Linked DNA regions of Homo sapiens: region 2 is linked to region 1. Evidence: fine-mapped expression QTL. A gene starts in region 1. The other region holds a variant in brackets. All regions are shown on one strand. Distances are from middle to middle.

Evidence for each region.
Region 2: its variant is fine-mapped to the expression of NSG1 in whole blood (INTERVAL, PIP above 0.99).

The regions. Positions count from the first base shown.
Region 1 is chr4:4,385,472-4,388,483 of GRCh38, reverse strand. NSG1 (neuronal vesicle trafficking associated 1) reads right to left here and starts at 1,382. Exons shown (of 5, transcript NM_014392.5): 1 at 1,311-1,382; 2 at 726-880. The coding sequence starts at 854.
Region 2 is chr4:4,348,553-4,351,308 of GRCh38, reverse strand. No RefSeq gene overlaps it. Among named protein-coding and RNA genes, the nearest start is that of NSG1, 37 kb to the left of the region's middle. The variant C/T (reference allele first, on the strand shown) is at 1,306.

The DNA of each region.
Region 1 (3,012 bases):
ATTATTCTTAGCAAACAGAAACTACTTAATTGGATGCTACATTCAAAAAGAGGAGATTCTTTAAATTCAGCAGAAAACACTTTGGGGAAAGGTTGATGAATGGTTTTTCCCAGTGACACCAATACTGAGCGAGCCCGGGCACTTATTTGGAGATTTCACAAAAGGAACAAAGAGGAAGGAGACCCTGTGTGAGCGCGCACACCCTCCTGCACCTAGCGCCAGCCTGGCAGGGGCAGGCAGAAAGGGCGAGAACAATTCAGCCCTGGGGAGGGGCCATCTGACCAAGGAGAACGCTCCCCCGCCTCGGTGGGGCAAGTCGGGCTGAACTGCCACACCCGGGAAGGTACAGGGGCAGCCTCGCCCGCCCCTAGGCTCACCCCCGATCCAGAGCCCCTGGGGCCACGGGGCAAGGGAGGAGCAGGGCAGCTGCGGGGCCAGGGCCCTCTCGGATGAGGCTCCCAGGAAAAACGCGAAGGAATCTTGCCCCACCGCGTTCCACTGTCAGGACGAGAATATCATCTAAGGCAGGGCTCCCCTCCCCCGCCCAGCATCCCGCGATCCAGAATCCCGCGCGGGTACACTGTCCTCGCCGCGCTCCCTCCGGCCTCCCGAGCCCGCCCCCACTTCGCGTACCCAGCGCACGCGGCGCGTTTCTTTTGTTGCGCCCGCCGTGCGAGATTTGGGGGTGCACACCCGGCAACGTGGAGGGGCGTGGGGGGGCTTACCTTATCCGGGGGCGGGAACTGCAGCTGATTGACATCGAGGGGCGTCATCAGGGGAATGGTGTCGAAGCCATCCTCCAGCAGCGGCTGCTTGGTGCCCTTCTCTGCGAAATTGTTCCCCAACTTCACCATCGTTCCGGGAGCTCCGAGGCTGCAGCCTGCGGCGGGAGGGCCGGGGGGAGTCACCACAAGCAAGACCCGGGGCGGGGCGGGGGGGAAGTGGGCACCCACACCCACCGGCGTCCCGGCGTCCGCGAGCTCCCCGGCCCCGCTTCGTCTCGGGGAGGGCTCGTGGGGACGCGGTGGTCACGGCCCGATGCGGGGGTCGGGTGGTGCTGTGTATTTCTAGACCCTCATCTCGCAGGACCCAAGCGCCGGGCGCAAGGGCGCACCGCGGCCAGGGAAGGGGGCGCCGCCCCTGCCCAGCACCTCCAGACCCGGTCCCCGGTCCTGGGGCCGCCGCACCCGGGCGACCCGCTGTTCACAGCCCCGTCCCGCGTACTCCGGGAGATGGGCATCCCCCGGGCACTGCTCCTGGGCGGGCAAGGTCTGGCCTCGGCAAGCCCAGGCGCGGCCGGCCGCACTCACCCACGCCCGGCTCCGGCAGGTCAGCTGAGCGCTCCGAGCTCCGCGTCTCCTGCTCCTGCTCGCAGCAATGGCGGAGGCGGCGCCGCGCGCGGACCCGGGAAGGGGAGCGAACGATTGGGCTCCACGGCCGCTCCCTCCTCCTCGCGCCGCCGCCTCCCTTCCTGCCTCTCCCGGGGGCTGGGTGCGCGCGGGTGGGTGCGCGCGTGTGGCCGCGCCTCCACCTTGACGCAGCGCCCGCCCGGCCGCACAAAGGAGTGCGGGGCTGGGCGGGAGCCTCCCCTGGGACCACGCGCCCGCCCTGAGCCGGGGGAGGGAACAGGGGAGCGGGAGAGGACGCGCCCCCAGGGGGTCTCGGAGCGGCGGAGGGCGCCCGGAGCGGGAGGGCTGCGGGCTGCGCCACCCCGGGCGGCGGCCTGGGCGCGAGGCGCTTAGAAAGGAGAAAGGGGAGGCGGGGACCGTAGGGACAGAGCGACCCCCAGGGGTGCGGGGAGGTGCAGAGAGGGTCCCCGCCCGCAGCGCGCCGCGCTCACCTGGGGGTCCTGAGGACGTTCAAGGGTTTGGGGGGATGGGTCCAGGAGGCGCTGGGTGGTGGCGGAGACCAGAGCAGGGTGCTCCTTAGTGCTGGGTTGGGGAGGGGGCGACCAAAAGAGGGCGCGTCCGCGTATAAAGGGGGCGCGGCCCGTAAAGGAGGCGCGGCCCGTAAAGGAGGAGGAGGTTTTCGGTGGTGCGGGAGGCGGAGTAGCGCTCTCCCAGGGCTGGGGTGTGGGCGCCCAGGGTGAGGCTGCCCCAGGCAGCGGGAGGGAAGTCGTTCTAGGCAAAGAGCGCTCAGTGCGCCGCTTGGAGGGAGGCGGAAAGGTTCCTCCGCTCTGGTTGGCAGAGAAGGTGGAGGTCCCACTGCAGCCGCCGCCCGAGCATCCTGGGCACAGAGGAGGGGCCGCTGGGACGATGCCCGGACGCGGAGAGAAGGGGGGTGGTTCTAGCCCGACCTGCGCCCCCAAACCCCGAGCTCAGCCGCTGTCGCGGCTTCCCAGAGAGGGTCCTGTTTGCAGACCTCCAACCCGTCCTGCCTGCAGGACTCACGGATGAAAGACTATGGGGTGTGGGGGCGAGGCCGAAATGGGAGTGGAGCCCGCGCGGGAGGAGGCCGGCTGCGGGGATCGGTGCCTCCTGGGCACCTGGGCCAGGAGCTGGGCCCTGTCAGGCGCTGGACGAGGAGGAGGCATCACCCAAATTCGATACTTTTTCACACCCTTTCCGGGGACTTCCCCGCGGCACTACGGAGGGTCCGGGGCGTTTTCCATCAGCCGTCTGAGAATCCTGGGAATAAGCCCAGAGCACAGGAGCAGCCACCGCCTTGAGCCCCAGGCACAGCCTGGGAACTTGCCGCGGGTGCCCTGATTTCAAAATCCCCAGGAGGGCTAGCCGTCTTTGACAGGTGACCTAGTGGGTATCTCGTAACTCGCCCCAACTCTCCAGCCAGGGTCTAAGTGTGCCTTTGACCACAGGCCAGCCTGGTCTGAACCCAGGCTCCTGGCAGAGGCACCCCGCCCCCAACCCAGGGAAAGCGGGTGTCAGACTCTGGCCCCTGCCACGGGCCTCGGGGACCCACAGAACCCACCTTTTTGGCACTTTGATGCCTCCCTGAAGCAGGTGAAGAAGAGAAGATTTCTCTTGCTCCACTTCAGAAATCTGCCCAGGCATC
Region 2 (2,756 bases), 37 kb after region 1:
CTTTTTAAGAAGGAACTCCTGTGGCCCAAGAGAAACATATTAAGCCACCGTGGTATGTTAAAGTCATACAGGAAGCTTTGTCAAATAAGAAATGGTGTTTAAATTTGTTTGAGTTATATTTGTATAGATACGTTATGAATGTGTGTTCTCAAGTTATGAGATTCCTAACATTCTGATACGTCTATGTTGTCACACATAATTATAGTTATTATGTTAAATTATTGTATGCCACAGAAATAATCAAATTTCCTTGTTAATTACATCTTTAACTATAGCTACCCGAAGTCTTTTGCCATTCATAGACAATTATTGCTCTATTTTGATTCTTCTCAAAAAGTGATTTACAACTGGCTGCAGTTCAAATTTGCTTTTTCTTCAAAGAGATTCATGGAAAAGGACCCTGGCCCTGTACTCTTTTTTTTTTTTGAGACGGAGTCTTGCTCTTTCGCCCAGGCTGGAGTGCAGTGGCCTGATCTCAGCTCACTGCAAGCTCCGCCTCCTGGGTTCACGCCATTCTCCTGCCACAGCCTCCCGAGTAGCTGGAACTACAGGCGCCCGCCACCACGCCCGGCTAATTTTTTCTATTTTTAGTAGAGACGGGGTTTCACCGTGTTAGCTAGGATGGTCTCGATCTCCTGACCTCGTGATCCGCCCGCCTCGGCCTCCCAAAGTGCTGGGATTACAAGTGTGAGCCACCGCGCCCGGCCGGCCCTGTACTCTTGAATACAGGTTTTTGATAACTTCAAAGATCGTATCATTGGACCAAGTAAAAACATTCAGAACTCTAATAAACTAATGCATTCATGAAGATTGCTAACCCAACATCAAGCAAGACAAGAATTAATTACATGGGACTGAACTGATAGAGGACTGAAATGACTTTTATGATTTTTTGCCCAAAACATTGCTGATTCTTTTTATATTTTGATTTCCACAGTCAAGAAAACTTTTCTCTTTTGAACTATTTGTAGCTTATAGAAACTGGATAAAATATACCTTTGTAAACAAAATGGAAACATTTGCCTTTATCTCTACCTGATTTCCCCAAAACTTGGAAAATCTTCATGAGTATTCGTATTTTATGGCAATCAAGTTATTTGCATTAGTTCAGTAAGAATCTGTTTTCTGTCACAGGATACAATTTAAGACAATTTTTTTTTCAAATCAAGATTCTGACTGGAATGACGTATTTTCAGATATGATAACACTGCTTTGAGGAATTGAAATGGACTTTATAGAGCTGATAAAAAGCCTCTTGGCAAAACTGGCCTGCTATCTTGTCTACATAGTTCCCTTTCAAGGTTT[C/T]TAATCTTGCAGTAAATAAAGAATGTGTCTTTCTGATATGCCCAGGAACCAAAAGATATTTTGGGGACCTTGGGAAGAGAGAAATTCACCCAATTTGTACAAGTATTACAGGTGCAGTCTAGCGGTGAATCCTTGGTTTGATGTCCTAGCCTTGAGACTTTTAAAAGTCTAATCTGAAATTCCTTCTGAACGTTCCAGCAAAGTCAACTTAAAAGGGTCTATATGGCCAATCACTATTCTTGCTGCACTTTATGCAAATAATCAGGCCAAGTATAATACTAAACTTTGGTAAAAATAGGGACTGGAGAAAAAAGTTAGGCTCCTGAAGAAAGCTATAGAACACCTGTTATTAGATTCCAGCCCCCGACCATTGTTTTTGAGTTCTTTTATTATTTTCCTACAATTTGAACTGAATCCCCAATGGAATAGGCTTTGTTACTATGTATCTCTCAGGGTTTTGCTTCTTCCAAGAAAACCAGAAAATGATATTCTGAAGAGTGGAGATGATTCAACAAGCAACAACAGCATTTATATAAATCAGTGGCTTGAATGAGGACTACCCAGGAATGAGACTTCCCAGCACTGAGGGATGAAGGACATCTATCACTGCCACCTGCACAGAGACTGATCATCAATGCTGCCATGGGAATAATTTTGATCAACAGGGGGGATATGAGAAAAGAAAAATAGCTCAGAGCAGGCTGAGAACTGAGAGATCTGCAGACCCACAGAGACATGGGTATGGAATTCCAGTCATTCCCTGGCCCCCTGTAGCCGGTGCCTACACCTGGGGACAATTGTTTAAAGTTATTTTGTTCCTACCGGTTGGGCGTGGTGGCTCACGCCTGTAATCCCAGTGAGAGGTGAAGCCAGCTGGGCTTCTGGGTTGGGTGGGGACTTGGAGAACTTTTCTGTCTAACTAAAGGATTGTAAACACACCAATCAGCGCTCTGTGTCTAGCTAAAGGTTTGTAAACGCACCAATCAGCGCTCAGTAAAAACGCACCAATCAGCACTCTGTAAAAACGCACCAATCAGCACTCTGTGTCTAGCTAAAGGTTTGTAAACGCACCAATCAGCACTCTGTAAAAACGACCAATCAGCACTCTGTAAAATGGACTAATCAGCAGGATGTGGTCAGGGCCAAATAAGGGAATAAACGCTGGCCACCTGAGCCAGCAGCTGCAAACCGTTGGGGTCCCCTTGCAGGATGTGGAAGCTTTGATCTTTGGCTCTTCACAATAAATCTTGCTGCTGCTCACTCTTTGGGTCCCCACTAGCTTTATTGTAACACTCACTGTGAAGGTCTGTGGCTTCACTCCTGAAGTCAGCGAGACCACAAACCCATCGGGAGGAACAAACAACTCTGGACGCGCCACCTTTAAGAGTTGTAACACTCACTGCTAAGGTCTGCAGCTTCACTCCTGAAGTTAGCGAGACCACGAACCCACT